7 linked regions of the Homo sapiens genome follow. The protein of the gene in region 4 purifies or fractionates together with the protein of the main gene of each other region. This does not show direct contact. Each region holds a gene or a part of one and is shown on either strand. Other genes may lie near its edges. The genes, in order: TMEM201, NUP155, SEC24B, SLC27A5, GRAMD1A, ADCY3 and SPTLC2.

Evidence for each region.
Region 1: the proteins of SLC27A5 (region 4) and TMEM201 purify together in Homo sapiens (affinity purification with mass spectrometry; one large-scale study listed by BioGRID and IntAct). This does not show direct contact.
Region 2: the proteins of SLC27A5 (region 4) and NUP155 purify together in Homo sapiens (affinity purification with mass spectrometry; one large-scale study listed by BioGRID and IntAct). This does not show direct contact.
Region 3: the proteins of SLC27A5 (region 4) and SEC24B purify together in Homo sapiens (affinity purification with mass spectrometry; one large-scale study listed by BioGRID and IntAct). This does not show direct contact.
Region 5: the proteins of SLC27A5 (region 4) and GRAMD1A purify together in Homo sapiens (affinity purification with mass spectrometry; one large-scale study listed by BioGRID and IntAct). This does not show direct contact.
Region 6: the proteins of SLC27A5 (region 4) and ADCY3 purify together in Homo sapiens (affinity purification with mass spectrometry; one large-scale study listed by BioGRID and IntAct). This does not show direct contact.
Region 7: the proteins of SLC27A5 (region 4) and SPTLC2 purify together in Homo sapiens (affinity purification with mass spectrometry; one large-scale study listed by BioGRID and IntAct). This does not show direct contact.

What each region holds. Positions count from the first base shown.
Region 1 is NC_000001.11:9,605,748-9,609,825, reverse strand, and holds part of TMEM201 (transmembrane protein 201), read right to left. Parts: intron 2,270-4,078; coding exon 2,037-2,269; intron 1-2,036. UniProt on the Homo sapiens protein: Critical regulator of angiogenesis and endothelial cell (EC) migration. Promotes the migration of endothelial cells, which is essential for angiogenesis.
Region 2 is NC_000005.10:37,298,017-37,302,094, reverse strand, and holds part of NUP155 (nuclear pore complex protein Nup155), read left to right. Parts: intron 1-544; coding exon 545-658; intron 659-2,526; coding exon 2,527-2,647; intron 2,648-3,116; coding exon 3,117-3,227; intron 3,228-4,078.
Region 3 is NC_000004.12:109,461,183-109,465,260, reverse strand, and holds part of SEC24B (protein transport protein Sec24B), read right to left. Parts: intron 2,361-4,078; coding exon 1,617-2,360; intron 1-1,616. UniProt on the Homo sapiens protein: Component of the coat protein complex II (COPII) which promotes the formation of transport vesicles from the endoplasmic reticulum (ER).
Region 4 is NC_000019.10:58,501,780-58,505,857, reverse strand, and holds part of SLC27A5 (long-chain fatty acid transport protein 5), read left to right. Parts: intron 1-4,078. UniProt on the Homo sapiens protein: May mediate the import of long-chain fatty acids (LCFA) by facilitating their transport across cell membranes. Also catalyzes the ATP-dependent formation of fatty acyl-CoA using LCFA and very-long-chain fatty acids (VLCFA) as substrates.
Region 5 is NC_000019.10:35,016,997-35,021,074, reverse strand, and holds part of GRAMD1A (protein Aster-A), read right to left. Parts: intron 1,885-4,078; coding exon 1,766-1,884; intron 1,685-1,765; coding exon 1,542-1,684; intron 1-1,541. UniProt on the Homo sapiens protein: Cholesterol transporter that mediates non-vesicular transport of cholesterol from the plasma membrane (PM) to the endoplasmic reticulum (ER).
Region 6 is NC_000002.12:24,913,538-24,917,615, reverse strand, and holds part of ADCY3 (adenylate cyclase type 3), read left to right. Parts: intron 1-4,078.
Region 7 is NC_000014.9:77,515,533-77,519,610, forward strand, and holds part of SPTLC2 (serine palmitoyltransferase 2), read right to left. Parts: intron 2,636-4,078; coding exon 2,506-2,635; intron 1-2,505. UniProt on the Homo sapiens protein: Component of the serine palmitoyltransferase multisubunit enzyme (SPT) that catalyzes the initial and rate-limiting step in sphingolipid biosynthesis by condensing L-serine and activated acyl-CoA (most commonly palmitoyl-CoA) to form long-chain bases.

The sequences.
Region 1 (4,078 bases), on a different chromosome or scaffold from region 4:
AAGCGGGCGACACGTCAGGCCTGTGGATGACGTGCAGAGGCCCCCACAAATGCTCTGCCGAAATCCCAATCCAGCCTTTGCTCTTTACAAATGTGCTTTCATGGAAACACAGGTGCTCACGGATTCCTCGGACTGCTGTCTGAGGGCTGCTGGGCACGTTCCCTTTTTGCAGATAAAGAAACTGAGGCTTGGGCTGGGCGCAGTGGCTCATGCCTGTAATCCCAGCACTTTGGGAGGCTGAGGTAGGCAGATCAGATCACGAGGTCAGGAAGAAACTTGAGGCTCACAGCAGGTGGTGAGAAGAGTCGGCACTGGGCATATTGTCCACTCCTCGTTCCATGCCCTTCTTCCCACAGAAGGGCCTGCTTTTCCAGCCATCTAGTCCCACTTTCTCCACTAATTGCAGACCCCAACTGCCTGTTCTCTCGATCCCAGGGATCACCAACCACGCTGCCTTTTCCTAAATCAGGCGCACGCACCCCAAGGGCAGGGGCCCCAATTCCAAGTGGCTGGCTGAGAGCTGAATGTGGGACCCAGGGACTGCCTCATGTCCTGTTGCCACCTGTGGGCTCTGAAGGGTCTGTTGCAGCATGCAGATAACCCTCCCCTCACCAGGCCAGGGGATAGGCTGGATAAGGGTGGTCACAAGGACCCAGCATGCCAACCAGGGTCCTTCTAGAATCCATTCTATGGATGCTGGGAGAGGCCGTCTTCCTGCTGGGCATGGGCTGCAGGACACAGGGATGAGGTGTGTGGCAGAGAAGCGGACTGAGGACAGACAGGGAGACAGCAAGCTGGATTCTGGCCACAGCACCTGAGCCCGGTCCAGCGCGTCTCTGAATACATGAGCCAAAGCCCTGCAGGAACTCCTGCCCCCGACCCACCCTCTGGCGATGGAGACCGGGCTCCTCCCCCCGACCCACTCTGGTAATGGAGACTGGGGTCCCATCTGTCACCGGACACTCCAAGACAAGCTTGCGCCCCAAGACCTCTGCTGCTACCTCAGACAGGTCGCTACTGTGTCCCTGCCTTGAGCCTTAACAGGGAGATTGCCTGTTCTTCTCTGTGGGCAGGAGCCCCTGCCTTGGAGGCCTGAACTGGCCCTGGGATTGCCACGCTCCCCTCCCAAGGGGCTTGAAACAGAAGTCCCTGAGCTCTGCCACCTTGGTCAGTGCGCACAGAGTTTACTCGGAGTGCTCAGGCCCAGGGCAGGGCTGCTCCTGGCACCTCCCACCCCAAGTTCCATTCAAGTGCCACCAGGCTGGGGTGCCCTGAAAATAGGGGGGTATCTCTGCTTAGGGGAAAAGCAAAAGCATCCTAATATAAACCTTGGCGTGTGTACAAAATGGCCTGCCCTGTAACTGCACGAGAGGAGAGGGGCCTTGGCTGTTATCAGCATCTCCTCCCCTAGAATAACTAGAGTGGCCCCCTTTGCTGAGGGGCATGTTGCAATTTTAGAGGAAAAGATTAGGGCACAGCACGGTGCACACATTTACCCAAGGTCATGTCACCAGAGCTGGGACTAAGGGGCCGTGCTGGGGCTCCCAGATGATATGGCAATTCTGGGCACTTTATTTTTATTTTTGTTGAGACAGGGTCTTGCTCTGTTGCCCATGGTGGAATGCAGTGGCGTGATCATAGCTCACTGCAGCTTCCAACTCCTGGGTTCAACCGATCCTCCCACCTCAGCCTAAATAGCTGGGACTATAGGTGTACGCCACCATGCCCAGTTAATTAAAACAACTTTTTTTGTAGAGACAGCGTCTCCCTATGTTGCCCAGGCTGGTCTTGAACTCCTAGCCTCAAGCCATCCTCCCACCTTGGCCTCCTAAAGTGCTGGGATTAAAGGCATGAGCCACCTATTCCTAGCTAGCCCCATTTCTTTGGGGGGAACTGAGGCTCAAAGCTCTGTGCTGCCTGTCTCTGCAGCAGGAACACTAACCACTCCCGGCCCTCCCTACACTATGTACCCATCCACAGTTCTGTCCCAGCTGCCCCTAGCCCTGACTGTCTGCCAATGCCTGGGCACCCCTTACCTGCTCGAGTCAGAGAGGGTATGGTTCCCAGAGAGAGGGCCCGGCTGAGGCGGCCAGGCAATGAGGAGGGTGAGGTCCGTCGAGGAGACCGGAAGAGCTGCTGGTTGGCGAGGGGCAGGAAGCTGGGCGGGCTGGGGATGAACAGAGACGCTGGAGAGCCTCCGACACTCGGGTGAGGGATGGCCAAGCTGGGGCTGGTGGGGAAAAGGCCGGCAGAGTCTCCTGGGAAGAACCTGCAAGGGCCCGTCAGGCACGGGACAAGAAGAGGGTCAGCGGGAGGTCCTGGAGGCAGCCTTGCAGTGGGTCCCACCCCTCTCCCACAGTGCAAGGTGGGGGCCTCAGCTGGGGTCCCAGAGGAGGCGTGCGTTAGTTAAAGCAGAAAAGCAATCCGACCACATTCACGCCATTAGGAGCGGGTGGCTGGGAGGTGCCAGCAAGACCCGGCCCTCCCCACATGCCCCCTCCTACCCCCTCGGCTCACAGCAAACTATCTCCACTACGAGTCTCGGTATTAAAGTGACACTGTCGCCTTTGCCAACCTCATGCCAACCCTTTCGCCTTGAAGCAAAAATGCCCAGCCCCGTGCCAGGCACTCAATGAAGGTTAATGGACTTGGACTCCTTGCCACTTCTTGTTCTGTGCCGAGCCTTCCCACAGAGCGGCCGGGCTCAGGGACATCCTGGCTCATCTCCCAGATGGGCCTGGATCATAGGAAGTCAGGCCCCAGCACGGCTCTGGGCACCCTCTGTTCCCAGGTGTGATTCCTGGAAGTCCTCCCACAGCTCTGCCCTTAGAAGGCTGCCTCCTGCTCTCTGGCCTTGCACTCTGGAAACTCCTCTGAAGTTCCTGGTAGAGCAGAACTGGGGGGCAGCCAGGCCTTGGAACCCCCTGGAAGAGGCTCTCACAGGACAACGCCAAAACCGAACTTAGAAGAGACCCATCCACGACCGCAAGGCTGCCCGAAAGACGGAAGGTGACAGTGTCTCTTTAACTCGAGATGGTACAAATCACACAACAGGACCTGATGGCCCCACGCCAGAACGTCAACCATGCTTCTGATTAAGGCACCCAATTACAGAGGGAAGAGAGGGACAGAGGCAGTTAATACATTAGTCCACCGTCTGGACGGAGCTCCGGGGGTCCAGCCTTACCTCGGTGCCAAGGGACAAATGAGCCCAGTGGACAACGTGCTGGTGAGCGGGCAGGCTGGCCCACGCCCTGCAGGAGCCGGGGGCTGCTTAAGGGACCTGCGCCCAGCATGACTGCATGCTCGGGGATCGCTAGCCAAGCCGCGCGCCACCAACCTCCCTGCTACTTTCCCTCTAAAAAAGTTTTATAAGGAAAGTGTGGGGCCAGCTCTTGACTTCCCGGAGAATCATGTAACCTTTCTAATGCCTTCCAAGGTGCCAGGAGACCACCTGGACTTCAGAACCAAAGGCGAGGCCATGTTTGGCGAATGTGGGCATCAAGGCAGGAGCTGAGCTGGGGACCCTGGGGAAGGCCCCGGTCAGCCGGACTGGACACATCCTTGTTCCGCCTGCTGACCTGTGATTCCCAGGCCCAGCGCCCGCTGCTTGCCCCCAAGACTCCAGGGAAGGCTCCACCTCTACACAGAAGATGAGGTTTTGTGTCGTCATGTTAGAATTCTGATTCCATTTGGCGGGACAGCGCAGCGACTTCAGGGAATGACCCTGAGGGCACCTTTAGGCAGGGGCAGTGAAGGTGTTGCTGGGACCTTGGGGCATGACCCTCCATGGGAGGGAGTTTGTGGGGCAGGGCTCTGCGCTAGGCTTCCTGTGCCCACCCTGCCCGGCAGCACAGACATAGCCAAGAGTCAGCCAAGGGTGACCAGGTCCCCCAGTGACCTGAGAGTACCGTTGGGGGATGTGTGAAAGGAGGGTCCTAGTGGGCTGTGGGTATGAGGTGGTCAGCTGGGCCACGCAGCTCCTGGCCCCAAAGGGTGGGCTCTAGCAGGAGTGGCTGGGTCTTGCCAGTGCATCCCCACTCCTCCCAGCTCCTGCTCACACCACCCGGGGCTGCCT
Region 2 (4,078 bases), on a different chromosome or scaffold from region 4:
CGTCCAAATACAAAAGTTTGTTTCTTATTCACAAAAATCCAAGGTGAGTCTTCCTGATTGGCAGCTGGCTTTCCTCCGTGTGGTTGATTTAGGAACCCAAGTTCTATTTTCTGGCACTACCATTCCCTAGGGCCTCTGCTTTATCTTCAGCAGAGGGTGGAAGGAAAAGAAAGAACACATTCACTGTCTTAAAAACTATAGCCCTGACATGACACACTACTTCTACTCACATTCCTTTGAAGAGAACTTGGTTGTATGGCCATACCTCCCCTACAGAGGAGGCTGAGCTGTATAGTCTAACCATTTGGCTACAGTCTTGGAAGGTATAAGTATTGGGCAGCAAGGAGTCTGCCACAGTATACTTCCTGTGAAATCTATTATGTTTAGTTGATGTCTGTTATGATAATATTAGCCTATTATGATAGAAATCTTCATTTATACATTATTTTAGCAAACTTAAAGTCAGATAGTAGGATCCGTTCTTTCAAACGTATGTTGATTTATCATAAATAAATTAAGACATCCTGTTTTCTGCCCAAACTAGGTTGCTAGGATCCAACTTCAGATACAGGAGACACTACAAAGGCAGTATTCCCATCATTCTTCTGTACAGGATGCAGTTTCTCAGCTGGATTCTGAGCTGATGGACATAACTAAGGTAATAAAAAAGCAAGTGAAATTTTTATAGTAGTTACCTAATAATGAGAAATTTTTGTTTTTTATTTTGCTTTTTGTTTCATGGGGAAAATTACCTTATCTCCACAAATAAGATAAGGCATCTTTGGCAGCTTGTCACTGGGCTGACAGATCACCACTGCTTCATCTGACTCCTAGAAAAAGGCTAAGCTACTCTTTCCAGGCCAGTAGCTACAAAGAACCTATCATCCTCGCATGAGAGCTGTGTTAAAACCAGCTTATTTCCAGCCTGGGCAACATGGCAAAACCTCATCTTTACAAAAAAATAGCAAAAAAGGCCAGGCACTGTGGCTCACGCCTGTAATCCAACACTTTGGGAGGCTGAGGCGGGCAGATCACCTGAGGTCAGGAGTTTGAGACCAGCCTGGTCAACATGGGGAAACTCTGTCTCTACTAAAAATACAAAAATTAGCCAGGCGTGGTGGCATGCGCCTGTAATCCCAGCTACCTGGGAGGCTGAGGCAGGAGAATTGCTTGAACCCAGGAGGTGGGGGTTTCAGTGAGCCGAGATCATGGCACTGCAGTCTAGGAGCCTGGGCGACAGAGCAAGACTCCATCAAAAAAAAAAAAAAAAAATTAGCCAGGTGTGGTGGTGTGTGGTTGTAGTTCATCTACTCAGGAGTCTGAGGTGGGAGGATTGATTTAGCCCAGGAGGCCCAGGTTGTGGTGAGCCTCGATGGTGCTACTGCATTCCAGCCTGAGTGACAGAGTGAGACCCTGTCTCAAAAAGAAAAAAAAACTAAAAAACCAAAACCATCTTATTTATGGCCTCGCTTCTTGCCTTGGAAAAACTAACTTATCTTTGCTTAACTCTCTAAACCTCTTTCTCTCTCTGTAATTTTCTGAGCAGTTCCTTCCTCTTCATTTATTCTTAGACATAGTTCCAGGTACCCTGAAACACTTTGAGATTTGTCAGTATTCCTGTGATTCTTCAACCCATTGTTTATACAACACTAGTTCTAAAATACCATTGCAGGAGGTTTGTAGGGAAGGTGGGGATGGTTAATGGGTACAAAAACAAAATGAATAAGACCTATCTGATAGCACAATAGGGTGACTATAGTCAATAATAACTGTATATTTTAAAATAGAGAATGTAATTGGATTATTTGTAACTCAAAAGGATAACTGCTTGAGGAATAGACATTCTCCATGACATGCTTATTTCTCATTGCATGACTGTATCAGAACATCTCATGTACCCCATAAATACATACACCTACTGTGTACCCACAGAAATTTGAAAAAATGAATTTTAAAATTAATAAATAGAATGTCGTTGCAACATCTTCTTCCCAGCCAAGAAAAAAGCTCTACATGCTAAAATGTGTTTGAATGTATTTACCATACCCTTACCCTTTTTTTTTTTTTTTGGCGGGGGGAGACAGAGTCTTTCTCTGTCACCAGGCTAGAGTGCAATGGCGTGATCTCAGCTGACTGCAACCTCCACCTTCCTCAGCCTCCTGAGTAGCTGGGACTACAGCCATGCACCACCATGCCCAGCTAATTTTTTTTTTTTTTAAATTTTAGTAGAGACGGGGTTTCACCATATTGGCCAGGATGGTCTCCATCTCCCGATCTCGTGATCCGCCCACCTTGGCCTCTTAAAGTGCTGGGATTACAGGCCTGAGTCACCGTACCCGGCCCATACCCTTAACTTTTTAAATATGGAGTTATAACCAGCTACATACATCATCACATCTTTATATCATATTTCAGAAACTTTATGTAAAATCTTTGGTTATTTTTTAATTTTCAAGGAGTGCTTCACTATTAATCTCTGAATGTTGATCTCTAGTTGGATGTTAATTTTGGGATTTTCTCTCACAGCTTTATGGGGAATTTGCTGACCCATTTAAACTTGCAGAGTGCAAACTTGCAATAATTCATTGTGCCGGTTATTCAGACCCTATATTGGTGCAGACACTTTGGCAAGATATCATAGAGAAAGGTAAGTGTTCAGTTATAGGTATGTTAGCATACGTTATGTAGTGACTTGGTGGAGGAATGCAAGCTGCTAGTAACTAATATAATGCAAGCTGCTAGTGGCTCATGAAAATTGTGTATACCTAAGAAGAGAGTAAGTGGAAGTCACCTGGGTATGGTGGAGGATGATCATACACAGAATGACCCAAGTGAATATTCGGGAGAATACTCAGTGAAAAGGTTATTTAATTTATATTATTTGTGCTGCCTTATAAAAGATACTGAGACACTCACCTCAGAATCTAATAACCAGTATAACCTGGTAAGACATGAGAGTATCTCAGACAATAACAGAAACACCAAATCTGTTAATCATATTAATGTGACTATCTGTTCTAAAGTATTTTGAACCTTGAAACAGAATTAAATAACCAATGTAAACATTTCACATTAAAAGTAATTTGGGTTTCAAATGACATGTCTTTTTGTTACAGAATTGAGTGACAGTGTGACATTGAGCTCCTCGGATAGAATGCATGCTCTTAGTCTCAAGATTGTTCTCCTTGGCAAAATTTATGCTGGCACACCACGCTTCTTTCCTTTAGGTAAGCTGTGATCTTAGGTGCAGTCACGTATTTTCTGTTCTGATGGTTTTCTCCGTTGATATGGACAAATAACGATCTTTCGAGTAAAATAAAGAGTTTCTTTGCTATTTAGTTCAGCACTTTAATTCTGCCTCTCCGGAAAGACTTCCAAAGAATGGCAGAATTTGTTAATGAAGAGTTGAGTATGAAACTTTCTGTGACTAACTTTCCAAGTTTATATTACCTGTCTTAGGATTGTGCTGACTGACAAACTATGATTATATTGTTGGTAACCCTATACAAGTTTCTGAAGAGAAAAGAAAAACGGTTGATGTTTTTGTGCATAGGTAATCTGTGATTGATTCAACTGTTCTTTTTTTATGTTGAGGGCATGTTTTTCTTTAAAATAGCAAATAATTATGTTAAAACTTAGTGTTTGAATCCCTTTCTTAATGAGATATGGTGGCTATAATTTTTAAATAAGGTAGCTAATTATGAGCTATTTGCCAACCTACAAGTGTTTTCCTCAGTGGTAAAACAATAGAAGCAACATAAATACATCCATAAATTAGAATATCAACTACTTTTGTGTTATTTAAAAATATTGAGAGACATGAAAATCCTCACAATATAACTTTTTTTTTTTTTTTTGAGACAGAGGCTTTCTCTGTCGCCCAGGCTGGAGTGGAATGATGCCATCTCGGCTCACTGCAACTTCTGCCTTCCAGGTTCAAGCAGTTCTCCTGCCTAGCCTCCCAAGTAGGTGGGATTACAGGTGCCTGCAACCACGCCTGGCTAATTTTCTGTATTTTTATTAGAAATGAGGTTTCCCCATGTTGTCTAGGCTGGTCTCAAACTCCTGGCCTCAGGTG
Region 3 (4,078 bases), on a different chromosome or scaffold from region 4:
CCAGATTTCGGAACTGTGACAGACACTTTGAGTTGACTCACCCAAGTCAGTGCTAACTCCCTTTTTTCTTGTTCGCCTCTACTATGGATGCTAAAAAAAAGATTCAATATTCATTTTCCAGCCTTCCCTGAAGCTAGGAATGGTCTTTTAAACAGCTATGGCAAATGATCTGTAAAATGAAGTCTGTCAATGCCACTAACCAGTCCCCTTTCCTCTCCCTTCTTGGTGCTTTTAATTCTGACTTAATGTCTATAGGTACAGAAGTATCTTGTTTCTATAACCTACATGCTGCAGGTGGCAGAGTGGAAAGAGAAAAAAGGATACCAAGAACAGCGGGATCCACTGCATCCACCTAGACTTGTGATGTGAGGAAAATACCCCCTTTTTGTTTAAACTACTATTAGCTGCTTGTATCTGAAAGCATTTCTAAACGACATAGCAATGAAAGAGTAGATGATCTCAAATGTACAGCTTGGGTCTAATATTAAAGTTCTAATTTTAAATAATCTCATTGTCCAGAGAAGGATATCTTTCCACAGCATCTTTGACACATGGCTATCCAGATAATGATACACAATCTAAAGGCATCATTCCAAAAGTTACCACAGCTTTACCAATTCCCATTTTTTACATGCATTTTCATTCGGTTCAAAAGCAGATTCTGTTAAATTCAAGTCACAAATTGAATTAAAATGAATATATCCTAGGGAAAGGAAACACTGCACTTAAAAAGCCACATTGGGCCAGGCACAGTAGCTCGCGTGTTCGAGACCAGCTTGGGCAACATGGCAAAACCCCATCTCTACAAAATTAGCTGGGTGTGGTGGCGTATGCCTGGTAGTCCCAGCTACTTGTGGGGCTGAGATGGGAGGATCGCTTGAGCCCAGGAGGTCAAGGCTGCCGTGAGCTGAGATCATGCCCAGCCTGGGTGATAAAGTGAGACCCTGTGTCAAAAAAAAAAAAAAAGGGCAAGCCACGTCTTACATACATAATTTTTAAATGAAAAAATTTAACAACACCTTGGTTTAGGAAGGTCAGAAGGGCTGAATACCAGGGTATTCTTCATGCATCTTCCTTTCCCTTCCCCATCTTTCAGCCTAACTTACTAATCTGAAAATGAGAAACACTGTTTACGTGCAGGAAAGATGTCTTCTGCAAAAGTCACTAATAGGGGCTAACTTGGGGAAACCAGTGCACTGCTGCAAACCATCCTTTTTTCTAAGTAAGTGGGGCTCTGGCTAAAAAAACAACTGTCCCAAGGTTGAACTAGTATAAAAGAGAAAATAGTGGCCAACATATCCTCAAAACAGACCCTTCCATTTTGCCCTGTATCTAATTCACATTAAAGACAACTATTGCAGATGTATAAAATATATCAATAAATGTTGACTGATCATGGCAAGGAACCAAGCTAGACAAGGCAGATGGTTGGGTGGCTAATTGGGAATGGATGAGAAGAAAGGGTTCAAAGAGGTGCTACAAAAAGCCACAATAAATTAGCAAACTTCCAGTTTTTCTATTAGGCAATATCACCTCTAACCTTCATGTAAATAATAACTTAATTGGGAATGCACTGATTTTCAAACATGTTTTGGTGAACTTTTCATTCAACCTACCAGTAATGGTTGGGTTGTTGTTCGCTACAGCCAGGGATCCTGTGTGGTTTCGGATGAGATTGTCTTGAGTCGATGGAAGGCCTGGAGATGACCACGTTAGAGTACTGTATCCTGAAAGACTTTGCTGCTGGTGGTGCTGTTGTGATGGTAGAGGTGGAAGTGGCGATGGATGGCTGATAGCTGTATTTTGACCAGAGAATGAATTATCTTTAACTGGCCTAACAGTCGGAGCATTCTGTGAGGTAAACATTTGCCCATATGTATCACCAGCAGGCAGAGAGGGATATGAAACACTAGGATACGCGGCATTAGAAACAGTTGACATAGCATAATGACCACAAGTAGAGGGAAATCCCTGAGACGCAACAGAAGAGCTGGCAGAGTACATGGCTGGACTATTGTAGTGATTCACAAAAGAGGAGTATGGTTGGGAGGCACTCGTATGCAAATGGGATGCTGACGATGCAGCACCTTGGAAAGATCCTAGAGTGGATCCCACAATATGAGGGGCAGGAGGACCCCTGCTGTACAACTGCTGTGCTCCTGGTTGCTGGTTCACTGTGTTAGGAGTCACATTTTGTGTTGGTACTGTATAGAGAGCAGAGTAGTAATCACCACACTGGGTATCCAATGGCAATGAGGTCATTTTCCCAGGTCCTTGAGAGTAATGTCCTGAGGGAGCAATATAGTTTTGATGATGCAATCCATATCCAGATGGAACCTGCATTTGATTCTGGGCTGGACCTGAAAAAGCAAGTATTTACAGGTATTTGTAAAGAGATAACTAATTTTTAAAAATAGCCCCCATTTAAATATTGAAGCAATTAACTTTCTTTTCCATAATCCCAACTTATTACAAAAGGTATACACTGTTATAGACCCATTATGGTAGCCTGCCTCCAACATGGCCCCCAATGATCCCCACCTCCTGTTATTCACACCCTTGTAGTCCTCCCTCACAATGTACCAGGACTGGTCTGTATGAACAGTAGCATACGGCAAAGGTGATGATATGTCACTTCCATGTTAGCCCAGTCTTGAGCTCTGGCTCTCTTTCTCTCAGATACCCCAGTCTGAAAGAAGCTAACCTGCCAAGCCGTGAACAGCCCTATGAAGAAGCCCATGCAAGGAGGAACTTAACTCTCTGGCCAACAGCCAAAGAGAAACTAAGATCTGCCAACAACCACGACTGAGCTTTCAGGCAGATCCTCCAAACTCAGTAGAATCTTGAGATAACTATAGCCCAGCCAACAGGTTATCTCATGAGAGACCCTGAGCCAGAACCACCTAGCTAGGCTGCTCCCAAGTTTATCTTCCTGAGAAACTGTGAAATAAATAGTTGTTGTTTTACAAGTTGTTAAGCTTAGGGGGTATTTTGTTATGCAGCTATCAGTAACTAATATACCCATCCTGGAAGAAGTTTAAACTTTGAGACAGGGTCTCGCTCTGACCCCAGGCTCTATAGAGTGTGATGGCTATAGAGCGCGATGGCATGATCATGGTTCACTACAGCCTTGTTCTCCTGGGCTCAAGCAATCTTCTCACCTCAGCCTCCCGAGCAGCTGGGACCACAGGCGTGCACCATGGTGACCAGCTAATTTTTACTTATTTATTTTTTACAGAGACAGGCTCTCACTGTGTTGCCCAGGCTGGTCTCCCATACACCACGGCCCAGCCAATGTTTCTAAATTTATTTTCTTGTAGAGACAGGGTCTCACTGTGTGCCCAGGCTGGTCTTAAACTCCTAGAGTCAAGTGACTCTCCTCCCTCAACCTCCCAAAATGCTGGGATTATAGGCATGAGCCACTGCACACAGCTAAAACTTTTTTCTCAGTTTTTATTTTTCCTAACTAGAAAAGTAACAATATACCCACTGTAGAAAAAATTCAAACAATAAAGAGTATGAATTAAAAATCTCTGCCTAGTAGCTTATATCCTATTTCCCAGATATAGTTACAGTTAATGCTTATGCATCCTCTGTATATCCATGTATCTATGTAATGCATATGTAAGCATGTATATAATTTACTTGATTTTTTAAACACACAAAAAGGATATTACAGTTCCGCAACTTGCTTTTACTTAATATATGCTGAATATCCTTAAGTATTAGCATATATAAATCCTCATTATTCTTTTAAAAATTTACATATAGTACTTTATTGTAGAGATATAACATTATTCACCAAATCTCCATTGATGAATATCTTGGGGTTGAACTAATCTATATTTATGAGGTCAACTTTTATGATGAAGCTATAAGACAAATTTCTAGAAGTCAAACTGGAAGTTCAAAAGGTTTATGTTTTTAAAATTGACATTATTGGCAAATATCTCTTAAAAGGTCTATCAATTTATACCTCCCATCAATAATGCTTCATATTGCCTCATTGTCCCAATACTGACTATATATTAATCTCTGCCAATCTGAAAAGTGAGAAACACTTTAGTTTACAGTAGTT
Region 4 (4,078 bases):
TTTTTTTTTGAGTCGGGGTTTCACTATTGTTGCCCAGGATGGAATGCAATGGCGCGATGTCGGCTCACTGCAACCTCTGCCTCCTGGGTTCAAGCGATTCTCCTGCCTCAGCATCCCAAGTAGCTGGGATTACAGGCATGTGCCCTCACGACCGGCTAATTTTTTTTTATGTTTTTAGTAGAGATGGGGTTTCTCCATGTTGGTCAGGCTTGTCTCAAACTCCCGACCTCAGGTGATCCGCCCACCTCAGCCTCGCAAAGTGCTGGGATTACAGGCGTGAGCCACTGCGCCCGGCCAAATTGTTTTTTTAATTATGAAAAGTTTAGGCTGTGCCCAGTGGTTTACGCCTGTAATCCCAGCACTTTGGGAGGATGAGTCTGGTGGATCACCTGAGGTCAGGAGTTCAAGATCAGCCTGGCTAACATGGCAAAATCCGTCTCTACCTAAAATACAAAAATTACCGGGGCATGGTGGCTCACGCCTGTAATCCCAGCACTTTGGGAGGCTGAGGCCGGCGGAACACCTGAAGTCAGGAGTTTGAGACCAGCCTGGCCAACATGGTGAAACCCTGTCTCTACTGAAAATACAAAATTAGCTGGGTATGGTGGTGGGCGCCTGTATTTCCAGCTACCAGGGAGGCTGAGGCAGGAGAATCGCTTGAACCCGGGGCGCAGGGGTTGCAGTGAGCCGAGATCTAGCCATTGCATTCCAGCCTGTGCAAAAAGCGAGACTCTGTCTCAAAAAAAAAAAAAAAAAAAAGTGAAAATAGTTTGATGACATCTCAGGTATCTTCACCCAGCTTCAATAATTGTTAACATGCTGCCAGTTTAATTTCTTTTTTTTTTTTTCTTTGAGATGGAGTCTCGCTCTGTCGCCCAGGCTGGAGTGCAGTGGCGCAATCTCTGCTCACGGCAAGCTCCGCCTCCTGGGTTCATGCCATTCTCCTGCCTAAGTCTCCGGAGTAGCTGGGACTACAAGTGACCGCCACCACGCCTGGCTATTTTTTTTGTATTTTTAGTAGAGACAGGGTTTCACGGTGTTCACCAGGATGGTCTCAATCTCCTGACCTCGTGATCCGCCCGCCTCGGCCTCCCAAAGTGCTGGGATTACAGGCATGAGCCACCGCGCCCAGGGCCAGTTTAATTTCACATGTACTTCCCTGTTTCTTTTTTGTTTGTTTGTTTGTTTTTGAGACAGAGTCTCGCTCTGTCGCCCAGGCTGGAGTGCAGTGGCACCATCTTGGGTCACCGCAAGCTCCGCCCCGCCCGCCCCCCCCCCCCCCCCAGGGTTCAATCAGTTTTCTGCCTCAGCCTCCTGAATAGCTGGGATTACAGGCACGCACCGCCACAAGCGGCTAATTTTTGTATTTTTAGTAGAGACAGGGTTTCGCCATGTTGGCCAGGCTGGTCTCAAACTCCTGACCTCAGGTGATCCACCTGCCTCGGCCTCCCAAAGTGCTGGGATTACAGGCGTGAGCCACCGTGCCCAGCCACTTCCCTATTTTTTTCCAGAATATATCAGAGCAAATCCTAGACACTGCATCTTTATGCTTGTAAATATTGCAGTACATATCTCTAACATATAAGCACTGAAGAAACTGTAACCAAAGTGATTATTACACGTAACAACATTAATATCATATGATGTCCTTAATATCATATGATGTAACCCCTTAATATCATATGATGTCCAGTCTATGTTCAGATTTCTCCAATGGGCTGTTTTGGTTTGGTTTTGTTTTTAGAGACAGAGTCTTGCTTTGTCACCCAGGCTGGAGTACAGTTGTGTGATGTTGGCTCACTACAACCTCTGCCTCCTGGGTTCAAACGATTCTCATGCCTCATCCTCCTGAGCAGTTGTGATTACAGGTGTGGACCACCATGCCCAGCTAATTTTTTTGTATTTTTAGTAAAGACAGGGTTTCGCCCTGTTGGCCAGTCTGGTCTTGAACTTCTGGCCTCAAGTGATCTGAACACGTTGGCCTCCCAAAGTGCTGAGATTACAGGTGTGAGCTACTGTGCCCAGCCAATTGGCTGTTTTTTTGTTTGTTTGTTTGTTTGTTTGTTTTTAACAATTAAACAGTCTCCCCATTGTATTTGCTTGTAGGTCTCTGTTCCCCTTTCATCTGCATTTCTTGTTAAATTGGAAACTTTAACTAGAGGTGTTGTTAGATTCAGTTTTTTTCTTTTTCTTTTGAGACAGGGTCTCACTCTGTCACCCAGGCTGGAGTGCAGTGGTGTAAGCTCGGCTCACTACAGCCTCCCCCTCCTGGGTTCAAGCGATTCTTCCACCTCAGCCTCCCGAGTAGCTGGGACTACAGGTGTGCGCCACCACGCCTGGCTAATTTTTGCATTTTTTGGTAGAGATAGGGTTTCACCATGTTGGCTAGGCTGGTCTCAAACTCCTGATCTTTCAGGTGATCCACCCCCCTCAGCCTCCCAAAGTGTTGGGATAACAGGTGTGAGCCACCACGCCCAGCCCCCTATATCTTATTAATCCATGTGTCCATACGTCAATACAACCATACAAACATTCACCAACCCACCCATCTACCTACTCACCTACTTCCTCACTCATTCATTCATTCATCCACCCACCCATCTATCCATCCTTACACCTATCCATCTTTCTCTTTTTCTTTTTTTTTTTTTTTAAGACAGAGTCTCACTCTGTCGCCCAGGCTGGAGTGCAGTGGCGCTATCTCGGCTCACTGCAAGCTCCGCCTCCCAGGTTCACGCCATTCTCCTGCCTCAGCCTCCCGAGTAGCTGGGACTACAGGCGCCCGCTACCACGCCCAGCTAATTTTTTGTATTTTCAGTAGAGACGGGTTTCACCGTGTTAGCCAGGATGGTCTTGATCTCCTGACCTCGTGATCCGCCCACCTCGGCCTCCCTAAGTCCTGGGATTACAGGCGTGACGATCCTCACCCAGCCACCTATCCATCTTTCTACCCCCCTGCCTCTGCATGTCACTGTCCAGCCATCCATCTACTCACTCACTACTCTAACTGTCCACCCATCCATCTACTCACTCACTACTCTAACTGTCCAGCCATCCATCTACTCACTCACTACTCTAACTGTCCACCCATCCATCTACTCACTCACTACTCTAACTGTCCACCCATCCATCTACTCACTCACTACTCTAACTGTCCACCCATCCATCTACTCACTCACTACTCTAACTGTTCACCCATCCATCTTCTCACTCACTACTCTGTCCACACATCCATCTTCTCACTCACTACTCTGTCCACCCATCCATCTACTCACTCACTACTCTAACTGTCCACCCATCCATCCACTCACTCACTACTCTAACTGTTCACCCATCCATCTTCTCACTCACTACTGTAACTGTTCACCCATCCATCTACTCACTCACTACTCTGTTCACCCATCCATCTTCTCACTCACTACTCTAACTGTCCACACATCCATCTTCTCACTCACTACTCTGTCCACCCATCCATCTACTCACTCACTACTCTAACTGTCCACCCATCCATCCACTCACTCACTACTCTAACTGTTCACCCATCCATCTTCTCACTCACTACTCTAACTGTTCACCCATCCATCTACTCACTCACTACTCTGTCACCCATCCATCTACTCACTCACTACTCTAACTGTCCACCCATCCATCTACTCACTCACTACTCTAACTGTTCACCCATCCATCTACTCACTCACTACTCTGTCCACCCACCCATCTACTCACTCACTACTCTAACTGTCCATCCATTCATCTTTCCATCCATCCACCATATCCATCCACCTGCCCACCCATCTGCTTAGCTGGGCATTCATTTATCGTAATCAAGAGTGATTTGAGCTTCGAGTCAGTGACAAGCCAAAATAAAAATTAAAAATGTGGCTGGGCACAGAGGCTCATGCCTGTAATCACAGCACTTTGGAGGCCGAGGCGGGTGGATCACCTGAAAGGTCAGGAGTTCAAGACCAGCCTGGCCAACATGGTGAAACCCCGTCTGTACTTAAAAAAGTACAAAAATTAGCCAGCTGTGGTGGCGGGTGCTTGTAATCCCAGCAACTCAGAAAGCTGAGGCAGGAGA
Region 5 (4,078 bases), about 23 Mb from region 4:
GGGTCAAGGGCAGCTCCGAAGTTGTAGTGATTTGGGCCAAATGCCTCGGGATATTCCTTGAGCTCTCTTTCCCTCACCGCCACATCCAATCTCTCAGCAAATCCTGTCAGCTAAACCTGCAAAATCTCTCCAGAATCTAAACTCTTCCCCCTCCATTTCCTCACCCTGATTCAGCCTCCGTCCCCTCCAGCCTGGATGTCCCAGCAGCCTCCTCCCTGGCCTCCCTGCTCCTGTACCTGTCTTTGCAGTCTGTTCCCACCAGAACAGAGGGAGCCAGAAGGAGCCTGGGACCACCTGAGTCAGGTCAGCGCCCTCCTGGCTCAGAGCCCTGGCCTGGTTGCACCTCACTCCAGGTAAAGTCAAGTCTTCACCATGAGCCACATCTGGTTCACCTTTTTTTTTTTTTTTTTTTTTTTGAGACAGGGTCTTGCTCTGTCGCCCAGGCTGAAGTGCAACGGTGTGATCATGGCTCACTGAAATCTCCACCATGTCTGGCTAATTTTTTAACTTGTTTTTTGTTTGTTTGTTTGTTTGTTTGAGACAGAGTTTCACTCTGTCACCCAGGCTGAAGTGCAGTGGCCCGATCTCGGCTCACTGCAACCTCCACCTCCTAGGTTCAAGTGATTCTTGTGCCTTAGCCTCCCAAGTAGTAGGGATTACAGACGTGCATCACTACCCCCGACTAATTTTTGTATTTTTAGTAGAGATGGGTTTCACCATGTTGGCCAGGCTGGTCTCGAACCCCTGACCTCAAGTGATCCGCCCACCTCAGCCTCCCAAATTGCTGGGATTACAGGCGTAAGCCACTGCACCTGGACCCTGGCTAATTTAAAAAAAATTGTTTTTGTAGAGACAGGGCTTCCGTACGTTACCCAGGCTACTCTTGAACTCCTGGGCTCAAGTGATACTCCTGCCTCAGCCTCCCAAAGTGCTGGGATTACAGGTGTGAGCCACTGTGCCGGGCCCCGGTTCACCACTTTAATCTCAGCTCCTACTCACTCAATCTTACTCCACTCCAGCCATTGCCCACACCCCTGCCTCAGGGCCTTTGCACCTGCTGTCCCAAATGAGTTGCTCTCAGCTCCTTCAGGTTCTTGGTGAAACATTTCTTTCCCAGTAGGCCCTTCCCTGACCAGCGTGTCGGGTGTAAAAGCCTCCACACCCTGCTTCTTTAGCCTGCCGTGTTTTCCTCATTTTTCTCCATAGGCCTAACTGCCAGTGAATGTTCTGCAGATTTTCCTGATCATTTCTCTATTGTCCAATTCCCCACTAGAATATGAGCTCCCTGAGAGAGGTGATATTGCCTGGCTTTGCTGTATCCTCAGAGTCTTGAGGCTCAAACACCCTCTGTAGATGGGAGGAGCCATCCCAGGGCCACTCTTCCTCTACCCTCCACTATTCGGAGGACAAGGGCCTCAGGAACCCCACGCTTCTGTTCCTCCACCAGGGTGGGAACCAAGGCTCTGCTGCTGACTTGAGGAGTGGACAGGAGGCCCTGGGGCCACCAGGGCATCGGGTGGAGGGGCCCAGCCACCACTCACCGGAGCCGCGCCTTGTTCCGGGCCAGACCCAGGATGCAGTAGCGGTGGGCAGTGTAGAAGTAGTCCTGGTAGGGGATGCCCTGCGTCAGCACCTCGGAGTCCACCACACACCCGCCGGCCTGGGGGCCGCGCCGGAACAGCGTCTGCAGGGACAGAGCCGGAGAAGTCAGGGCCACCCCACTCACCCAGCTGCCCCACCCACTCGGCTGCCCCACCTGGCCCACCTGTGTCTCCACCACGGAGGCGCTCTTGGGGCCCAGTGGGTTGCTGATGGGGATGGTGTACGTCAGCACCCGGCGCTGGTGGCACTTGCTGTCCCCACTCCAGGGGCTCAGCGTCACGTCTAGAGGAGGGAGGAGCAGCATGAGGAGGCCACACCCCAGTCCTTTGCCCACAGGCCACAGGAGACTCAGCCTTCTGGGAGGTCTCTCTGGGGACCTGTCCCAATCCCCACCACTCCTCTGTGTCCCCACCTTCCTTCCAGGAGCCTAAAACCTTAGCTGTTGGGGCAGGGCCATCTCCTCCACTGCTGCAGCCTCAGTTTCCCCCTCTGCACCCGTCTTGGCTTCTGCCCTGAGCATTGGACCTGTAATCTTTTGAACACCTTCCCCTGGAAGGTCCCTGGACCCCTCGAACCCACCGAGCTCCACACAGCCTCAGCATCTCCCCAAACCTGCTGCATCTCCCAGGCCCCCACTCAGGGGTGGCCCAGGGTCCTCCAGGCTCCCACTGGAGCGGTAGGCCTTGCCCTGGACACCCCCTACTCAAACCCCTAGATGGTTACCTACACTGTGTGTTCACCAAACCTCCTGAGCGTCACTCCTGGTTCAGCCCATCTTTGCCTGCCCAGTGCCCCTGCCAGCCTTCCCTTGAGTGTCTGGCCTCAGTCTCCCCATCTGGTCCAGGGGCATCTTGTTAAAGCCAAGCCTGACTCTATCCCTTCTCTGCCTAGAACACTCCATGGCTCCCCAGTACCCCTAGAACAGAGTCTGAGTTTGGTATAGTTTGGATATTTGTCCCCACCCAAATCTCATGTTGAATTGTAATCCCCAATGCCGGAGGTAGGGCCTGGTGAGAGGTGTTTGGATCATGGGGGCGGATCCCTCATGGTTTGCTGCTGTCTTCATGATAGTGAGTTCTTCCGAGATCTGGTCATTTAAGTGTGTGGCACCTCCCCTCCACTCTCTCTCACTTGCTCCCCCTTTGCCTTTCAGCATGATCAAAAGCTCCCTGAGGCAGCCGGGCACAGTGGCTCACGCCTGTAATCCCAGCACTTCGGGAAATTTGGGAGGCCGAGGCAGGAGGATCACCTGAGGTCAAGAGTTTGAAACCAGCCTGGCCAACACGGTGAAACCCCGTCTCTACTAAAAATACAAAAATTAGCTGGGCGTGACGGTGGGCGCCTATAATCCCGGCTACTCAGGAGGCTGAGGCAGGAGAATGGCTTAAACCCAGAAGGCAGAGGCTACAGTGACTCAAGACTGTGCCACTGCATTCCAGCTGGGGCGACAGCAAGAACCTGACTCAAAAATAAATAAATAAATAAATAAATATGTGTTAATGATCACAAATTTAATGTCCACTCTGTCAGGCCTATGCAGGGCTTGGAGGCCAGTGGGAGACCAGGATAGATGAACTCCTGTCCTTAGCACCCAGAATCTCTTGAGAACAACAGGAAATATCTATAAATAAAAACCACACACTACTGGCATGGTGTGAGTTAAGGGCAGAAGCTGTGAGTATCTGGGGGTATCTGGGATCTGAGGAAGGTAAGGGAAGGCTGCCAGGAGGATGTGAAATCAAAACCAAGGCCTGAAGGAGGAACTGAGGAAGGAAGGGGTCGGGGCAGAGGAGCCCAGGAGGCCGCGTGATACCAGTAAAGGCCCTGAGGCTGGAGGCCAATATTGAGAGAAGTCCCCTGAGGCTGGGATGGGGCAGCCAGGTATGGAGAGGGGCAGCCACAGCTCTGGGTGAGGCTGAAGGGTTGACATGGGACCAGCCAAGGAACTTGGGAGGCTACAAAAGAGATTCAAGCAGGGGAGGAGCGTGTCAGATGGGAGTTTCTCTTTGTTTCTTTTTCTGTATTGATGAGACATGCAGTATCCCCTGCAGTCAGGAAGATGGTGCCTTGTGTTGGGGGGCTACAAGGCCCCCAAAACTATGCTTATGTCCTAAAAGGGCTGGCGTGTCAGGCTGAGGAGCTCTGTATTAGGCCATTCTTACATTACTATAAATACCTGAGGCTCAGTAACTTATAAAGAAAAGAGGTTTAATGGGTTCACAGTTCCACAGGCTGTATAGGAAGCATGATGCCGACATCTGCTCGGCTTCTGGGGAGGCCTCAGGAGCATTTTTTTTTTTAATGGAGTCTCTCTCTGTCACCCAGGCTGAGGTGCAGTGGCATGATCTTGGCTCACTGCAACCTCCACCTCCTGGGTTCAAGCAATTCTCTCACCTGAGCCTCCAGAGTAGCTGGGATTACGGGTGGGCAGCATCATGCTCAGCTAATTTTTTTTTTTATTTTTGTAAAGACTGAG
Region 6 (4,078 bases), on a different chromosome or scaffold from region 4:
GTCCTGGAGCACGCTTTCTACTGGAAGGGGTGGAATTTCGGCCTCAGCTTAACTATTATAGTATTGTGTTCCCACCAAGTGCCAGGCCCTCAGGGGCTGCAGAGACCAGGGGACCTGAGGGACAGTAGGCAGTGTGTGTCCCTGGGGAGCCAGCAAGCCGGTGACCAGAGAATGAGGCGGAGATGTCTGCATCTGGGTTTGGTGCCCAGCCTGCCAGCCTCGTGCCAATGATGGTCAAGAGAGGCTCCCCCACTTCCTGCCCCTGCAGTGCTCTGTCTGGTAGAGATGTCTTAACTCCCACGCCAGCTCTGTTCTGTGGTTAGTGGGGCTGGGGTAGAGTCAGCTCTGAAGCGGTGACCTTCTGGGTGTCAGGAGAGGCAGGGCGTGCCCAGAATCCTTGCTGACTGACGTGAGCCTCTAGCAGCCATGGAGGTCAGTGCCTGGGTCCTGGAGACCAGGTGCTATGTGCAGGCCCAGGGTGGACAGACAGAATCTTCCACTCCTCTGCTGATTTCTCCACTCATGTCTCATCCTGCTGATTTGTTCTAGAAATGGGTAGAGGATGTTAACATAGGCAGGGCCTGGCAGGGCATCTAGCCCAGACTACCCATTTTACAGAGGAGGAAACAGAGATGAGTGATAACTGGTTCACTGTCACCCAGCACTTTGGTGGCAGAAACAGGACGGGAGCCCAGGCATTGACCCCCAGCCCAGGGCTCATTTGTGTATGTTCCTTGGAGCACTGAGAGCTGCCTGAGAGCAGGAGCTTTGCTTCCCACCCCACCTCCTGGAGACAGTGGCTATGTGCTGCCCTGCCGTCCCCACCCCAAATCTCTGTAGAGGGGGCTGTGAGTTTCTGGTCATTGACTAGGTGGAAACACCAGTCATATCTCTTCAGGCCATGCATTAGCCAGTCCCAGGTTCTTTTTTTTTTTGAGACGGAGTCTTGCTTTGTTGCCAGGCTGGAGTGCAATGGCGCGATCTCAGCTCACTGCAACCTCCGCCTCCCAGGTTCAAGCTATTCTTCTGCCTTAGCCTCCTGAGTAGCTGCGATGACAGGCACGCGCCTCCACGCCTGGCTAATTTTTGTATTTTTAGTAGAGACAAGGTTTCACCATGTTGGCCAGGATAGTCTCGATCTCTTGACCTCATAATCCGCCCGCCTCGGCCTCCCAAAGTGCTGGGATTACAGGCGTGAGCCACCATGCCCAGGCATCCCAGGTTCTAAGGTCTGAGGTCTGAGGATGACTGGTCTCTCTAGCTCCATCTCCTCAGGTGGACAAGGAGCTTATTTTGAGGCTCCTGGAGCTTCCAGGGAAAAGGACTGAGAAGGTATGGCCACAGGGCTGGGCCGGGGCCTGGGTGCCCCACCACGTGGCTACTCGGAGATCACTTCTAAACTCATGATTGTTCTCCTTTGAGTATTGCTAAGACATAAAACCCTAAAACTTAGAAAACAGAAAAAAAAAGATAGAAATCAAGAATAAAAATATTAGCATCCCAGGGGAGCCTGACCTTGGCATGCAAGCAGTGCCTGGGAGGCAGCTTTGGGAACAGAGCAGGAGGGGCAGAGAGCTCTCAAGGTCCGATTGGGAGCCTGAGATCGAAGGCAGGAGGCCCCAGCTTACAGTGGGCTGTGTTCCAGAAGCTTCTGAGTCACTGGTTTGGGACTAATGTGACTTTTTAAAAGGTGCCTGGGTTCCCAGGCCCACCCACCAGGGTCTTCCTCAACTCACAGCATCCCGGCATTTGGCCTCTGAAGATGGTGGAAATGGGGCCGGGCATGGTGGCTCATGCCTGTAATCCCAGAACTTTGGCAGGCTGAGGCGGGCGGATCACCTGAGGTCAGGAGTTCAAGACCAGCCTGGCCAACATGGCGAAACCGCATCTCTACTAAAAATACAAAAATTAGCCAGGTGTGATGGGGCGTGCTTATAATCCCAGCTACACAGGAGACTGAGGCAGGAGAATCACTTGAACCTAGGAGGCAGAGATTGTAGTGAGCCGAGATCGCACCACTGCACTCCAGCCTGGGCGACAGAGTGAGACTCCATCAAACAAAAACAAAAACAACAAAAAACACAAGCTGCAGCAGCCTGTGTTGCTGTGGGGAGGGACACCCGGGACAGCGGTCTCCCCTGAGCCCTGGAGTGAGGTGTCATTCATCTCCCCTGCTGCCGTTGCCTCCTGGGATGTGGGCCCCATCAAGGATCGGGGGCAAGGGCTGGAGGACAGGATGCAAGAACCAGGGGACCAGGCCCCTTCTGGTCAGGGTAGGTCCCAGAACTTTCTCCAGACCCCAGGCACCGCCTTTCTCCTACCCATGTGCTTGCCCTTGTCTTTCTCTCTCCCATCCCCTGTCGGCTCTGGCTGGGGACTCCCTCCAGGGTCAGTGGGGGATGAACGCAGTTTCCCAGTTCGAAATAGACACCTGGATTTCTGGGTTCTTGTGAGTTTTGTGGTTTTGTTGCTGCTGTCACTGGCAGCATGAAGAAGCATTGCCAGTGTCAAAAGTCTTCTTCCTCTGCAGCCCTTATCCCCCCATGCCCATGCGCAGCTCTGTGGGGAAGGACAGAAGGTACACATGGGGCTGTTGGCAGCCTGAGAGGTCAGAGGCCAGCCAGACAACCTGTCCTGGGCTCCTCGCAGGAGGCCAGTGGGTGGGGTTCTGACAGGAAGAGCAGGTGATCAGGGAGTGTGGGATGGGGTGGGGCTGGGGCCCCACCAATGAGTTAATGAGTGAATATTGCCGAGCAGCATGGGCCTTGCAGCCTGCAAGGTCAGGGGATAAGGAGGATGAGGCCATCTGACACTCAGGCTGTGCTGGGGCGGGGAGGATGTTCTGAGAGCCACCTTGGGTGGGCAGAGACCTAGCCAATGGTTCTCACGACCCATCCTCTAGCCCCTGCCTGTCCCCCATTCCTTTTTTTTTTTTTTTTTGAGACAGAGTTTCATTCTTATTTCTGAGGCTGGAGTGCAATGGCACAGTCTTGGCTCACTGCAACCTCCTCCTCCCGGGTTCAAGTGATTCTGCTGCCTCAGCCTCCCAAGTACCTGGGATTACAGGTGGCCGCCACCACGTCTGGCTAATTTTTTTGTATTTCTAGTAGAGACAGGATTTCACCATGTTGGCCAGGCTGGCCTCGAACTCCTGACCTCAGATAATCCGCCTGCCTTAGCCTCCCAAAGTGCTGGGATTACAGGTGTGAGCCGCTGTCCAGAGGAGGGAACAGAGGACGAAACAGAGATGGGTGATAACTGGTTCACTGTCACCCATCACTTTGGTGGCAGAAACAGGACGGGAGCCCAGGCGTTGACTCCCAGCCCAGGGCTCATTTGTCTGTGTTCCATGGAGCACTGATTGCTGCTCCATGGGTCCCCCATCCCAAGAGGCAACACAGGCCCAGAGCAGCCGGAAGGGAGGACAGATGGATCAGGAGGAGCCGAGGCTGGCAGTGTTTGCCCATTTCGCTCCCCTGGCCTGGGTCCTGCCCCAGGACCTGTTACGGAATTACTTGCCCTTTACTGCCCTAAACTGCCCCTGGGCTGGGTGAGGAGGAAGGAGGGGACTGGGCTCAGGACCAGGACCTGCAGGACCAGCGGCCAATGAGTGCGGACAATGGGGAAGGCAGCCAGGATGGTTGGGGGTGGTGGTGGGCGGGGCGTGCCTTTAGCATTTGGCAAAGTAGGGACTAGGAACTGCTGACAAATATTTTGTACCCTTACTTCAGAGCAGAAAGGCTATTTGGGAGCAAAATTCTCTCATGGAATGAAGAGCCTGTTAAGACCTTTTTTCACCAAGTAAAACATGAGGAAGCTGTGGATGTGCAGTTTCTTTCACACCTGCAAATTACACAGCAATCATTCACCCAGCAAAGGAACATTTGCTCCTAGGGGCTGGAGGGAGCTGCCGTAGGGAGGGTGAGAGGAAACTGAGGCTTCCAGAGACACCCTGTCTGCAGACGGCAGGTAGCTGTTGCATGCACCTCATCCCATTTAATCCTGGATGTTACTGGCTCCATTTCACAGATAAGGGGACTGAGGCTCAGTGAGGTTGAGAGGAGGTAGTGGGGCTGGA
Region 7 (4,078 bases), on a different chromosome or scaffold from region 4:
AGGGAAAGGCTTTTTTTTTTTTTTTTTTTTTTTTTGAGACAGAGTCTCGCACTGTCGCCCGGGCTGGAGTGCAGTGGTGCGATCTCAGCTCACTGCAACCTCCGCCTCCCAGATTCAAGTGGTTCTTCCGCCTCAGTCTCCCGAGTAGCTGGGATTACAGGTGCCCCCCACCATGCCTGGCTAATTTTTTGTATTTTCAGTAGAGATGAGGTTTCACTGTGTTGGCAAGGCTGATCTCAAACGCCTGACCTCCCAAAGTGCTGGGATTACAGGTGTGAGCCACCGCACCCAGCCAGGAAAGGCTTTCTTAAGTTTATTACTAGGTATTTTCTTCTTTTGAAAATTGTAAAAGAAATTTTCTTTTCATTTGTTCATTGCTGGTGTATAAAAGCACTAATTTTTTGTGTGCTGATCTTTTACCCTGCAACTTTGATGAATTCATTTATGAGCTCTAGCTGTGTGTGTGTGTGTGTGCGCGCGCGCGCATGTGTGTGTGTGTATTTTACAGCACTTTCTATATACAGAATCATGTCATGAGGCCCATTATTAAATGAAAATTAATTTGTATCTCATAATGGTCTAGTACACGTTTAGTTCCATAAAACATCATAAGACAAAATGACTTTAACAAATCCATGGTTTCAAAAAATGCACTTTATGCTTTAAAAAACTAAATGGGAGGCAAAGCCCAACAATCCCTCAAGAGAATCTTATGAAAAGGATTAGAACTCTCAGTTGGCAAACATACTTGTTGGCAACAGAAATCTCCTTAGATATCCTAAGGAGATATCCTGGTTACATCTAAATTCTTTCATGAATGTGTACAGTTCTCAGAAGTCAAAGTTGTGGTCAGAAGGCATGGATTACTGCCATAGACACTGGTTATAGTTACACAGACTTTTTTTTAAAGGCACATTGAAATTCTGAGTTAACAGGTGAACATGAGAAAGAAAAAAGAAAATTCTTAAAACATCAATAGAGTAGGAAGGAAAGAAAAGCTGAAATCTCTAGGTTAAAAAAAATCATCACAGAAATTCACCAGTAAAATTTCTGAGAAATGAGAAAAATCCATTGGAAAAATCTGACAGGCATAATCAAAATAAAGAAAAAAAAGATACAATATCAAAAAGTTGAATCTAATTGGATATTGTCAGAATGTAATTAAGAATATGCTCACAACACTGTGCCTATAGTTAACAATACTGTATTCGACATGGAAAAATTTGTTAAGAGGACAGATCTCATGTTAAGTGTTCTTACTACAATTTTGTTTTTTAAAAGGGAATACACTTATACTCATAGAAATTTTGCTGTGTAGAAACAGAGAAGAAAAGTCAAGTCTTCGGCTATTCAGGAATACAAAATGTCCATCAAATTGTTATAATTAACTTTTATAAAGAAGCATTCATAATGTTCTTTAGGATTAGTAGCTCTTGCCAGGCAGTGGCTCACGCCTGCAATCCCAGCACTTTGGGAGGCTGAGGCAGGCGGATCACCTGAGGTCGGGAGTTCGAGACCAGCCTGACCAACATGGAGAAACCCTGACTCTACTAAAAATACAAAACTAGCTGGGCATGGTGGCGCATGCCTGTAATCCCAGCTACTCAGGGGGCTGAGGCAGAATTGCTTGAACCCAGGAGGCAGAGGATGTGGTGAGCTGAGATCACGCCATTGCACTCCAGCCTGGGCAACAAGGGCAAAACTCTCTCTCAAAAAAGAAAAAAAAAATTAGTAGCTCTCTAACTCATTAATGGATATTTCTAGCAACTAATTTTATGCAAATGTCATGTTCTAAAGCTTTATAAACTCCCAGATGGCAATAATGATTTAAACTCTGAAATCTTAGACTTGCAACAATAACATATTAAGAGAATATATAGAGATGAGAATATCTTGAGATAATAAATAATTAAGCTTAGTAATAATGATCCCCAACTAGATGCCTGGCAGTGTGGTGGGTGCTGGGATATAGAATCAGTAAAACAGACTTATTCCTATCCTCAATATTTATCTAATGGAGAAGACTGCTATTAAATAATTATAGGTGTGAAGAATTTAGTAAGGGAGAATCTCAGGATTCCAAGGGAACACAGAGCAAGAAGGTGTGGGGCGCCCCTGAGCAATTTTCCTTTAAATGGAGATGTGAAGAATGAGTGGCAGTCAGCCAGGCAGAGGGGAGAGAAAGCTCAAGAGAGAAAATTTTAGACAGAACAACATATGAGAAAGCTTAATGTAGAAATAGCTAGAGTGGAAAGAGAATTGTAGAGTCCATAGTGAGGGAGACAGTAGAGCAAGACAAAGCCGGAAAATTCTCCAGAGCTCTCATGATGCAGGTGTGGTGGGTGACAGTTTTTTTGTAAATGCCAATGTTTTTGGTAGCACTGTCACCCCCTCTGTCTTAGGTGCTCACAAGAACATCAAGATCAATATATTATGAATTTCATCTAATATACAGGCCCTTTTAATAAAAGGCATATTTATATCAAGGTGAAAGTGCCTACTTACAGTATCAAGTATTTCTTTGGTATGAGCTGCTGACAGGCAAAACCTGGCTCTGGACTCAATAATTGGGGTGGCAGGAAATCCAACCACAACGACACCGATGTTCCGCTTCAGCATCTCCCGTCCAAAGGCGCTGCAAAGGGGAAAACAAGAACAGAAACCAGGAGGAGTGAAAAAGCACTCATTACAGAGGACCTGCTGTCCTCAAAGATTTCAACTCTTTGGTGATGCAGGCATTGGAGACTTCTAATAGGAGTTTCCTTTAACTCCTTTTAAAGTTAAAATTGACAGCTCACAAATACTTTTAAAGTCAATCCTAAAGCAGTCTTCTCCTATATGGTGTCCTTCACAAAACTGAAATAACCAGCCTGGGCAACATGGTGAAATCCCGTCTCTACCAAAAATACAAAAAATTAGCTATGTGTGGTGGCATGCACCTGTAGTCCCAGCTACTCAGGAGGCTGAGGCATGAGAATCTCTCGAAGCTTGGAGGCAGAAGCTGTAGTAAGGCAAGATCACACGACTGTACTCCAGCCTGAGCAACAGAGCAAGGCTCTGTCTCAAAAAAAAAAAAAAGTGTCCCTGATATGTAATAGTGGTTCAGAGGCTTCAAAATGAACCTGTATTTAATTAAAATCTGGTCCTTGAAATGTTAAGCTTGGCAGTTTAACATTAATCCGCAAATTCTGAGGATTCTGCAGCTGTGGGGGATCTGCTGTAACACGGCACATCTTTTCTGCTAGCAGAATGGCTGACTGGCATGAGCTCTCCAGATCACACGTTTCTTTAATTGTCTTGGGAACAACACTGCTTCAGAATTCAGGGCTTCCTTTGGTGTCTGTCAGGCCAGTTCACCCGCTGGCTTCAGCTGATTACTCAGACCACACAATTCGTATTTAACAATCCCCCACCCCTATCGTAAGCCAAATTGGAGGCCCTGTGGCCTTACTCCACATCTGTATCTTGTCTAAATAACACATTCTAACTTTTAGTTAATTTTGTCTACTAAATTATGTGGGTTTTTTTTTGAGTCTCTCGCTTTGTCGCCAGGCTGCAGTGCAGTGGCACGATCTTGGCTCACCATAACCTCCACCTCCCAGATTCTAGCAATTCTCCTGCCTCAGCCTCCCGAGCAGCTGGGATTACAGGTGTGCACCACCACACCCAGATGATTTTCGTATTTTTAGTAGAGACGGGGTTTCACCATGTTGGCCAGGATGGTCTCGATCTCCTGACCTTGTGATCCACCCACCTCGGCCTCCCAAAGTGGGATTACAGGTGTGAGCCACTGTGCCTGGCCCAAATTATGTTGCTTTTTGTCTTTTCCTCTTATTGACCTCCCTTATGTTTCAACTTTTCCTTTAAGCTGTTTACAGCATTTGTTTGAGAATAAAAAAATGTGGCCGGGCCAGTGGCTCGTGCCTGTAATCCCAGCACTTTGGGAGGCCGAGGCGGGCAGATCACCTGAGGTCAGGAGTTGGAGACCAGCCTGGCCAACATGGTTAGACCCCATCTCCACTAAAAAATACAAAAATTAGCCAGGTGTGGTGGCACACATCTGTAATCCCAGCTACTG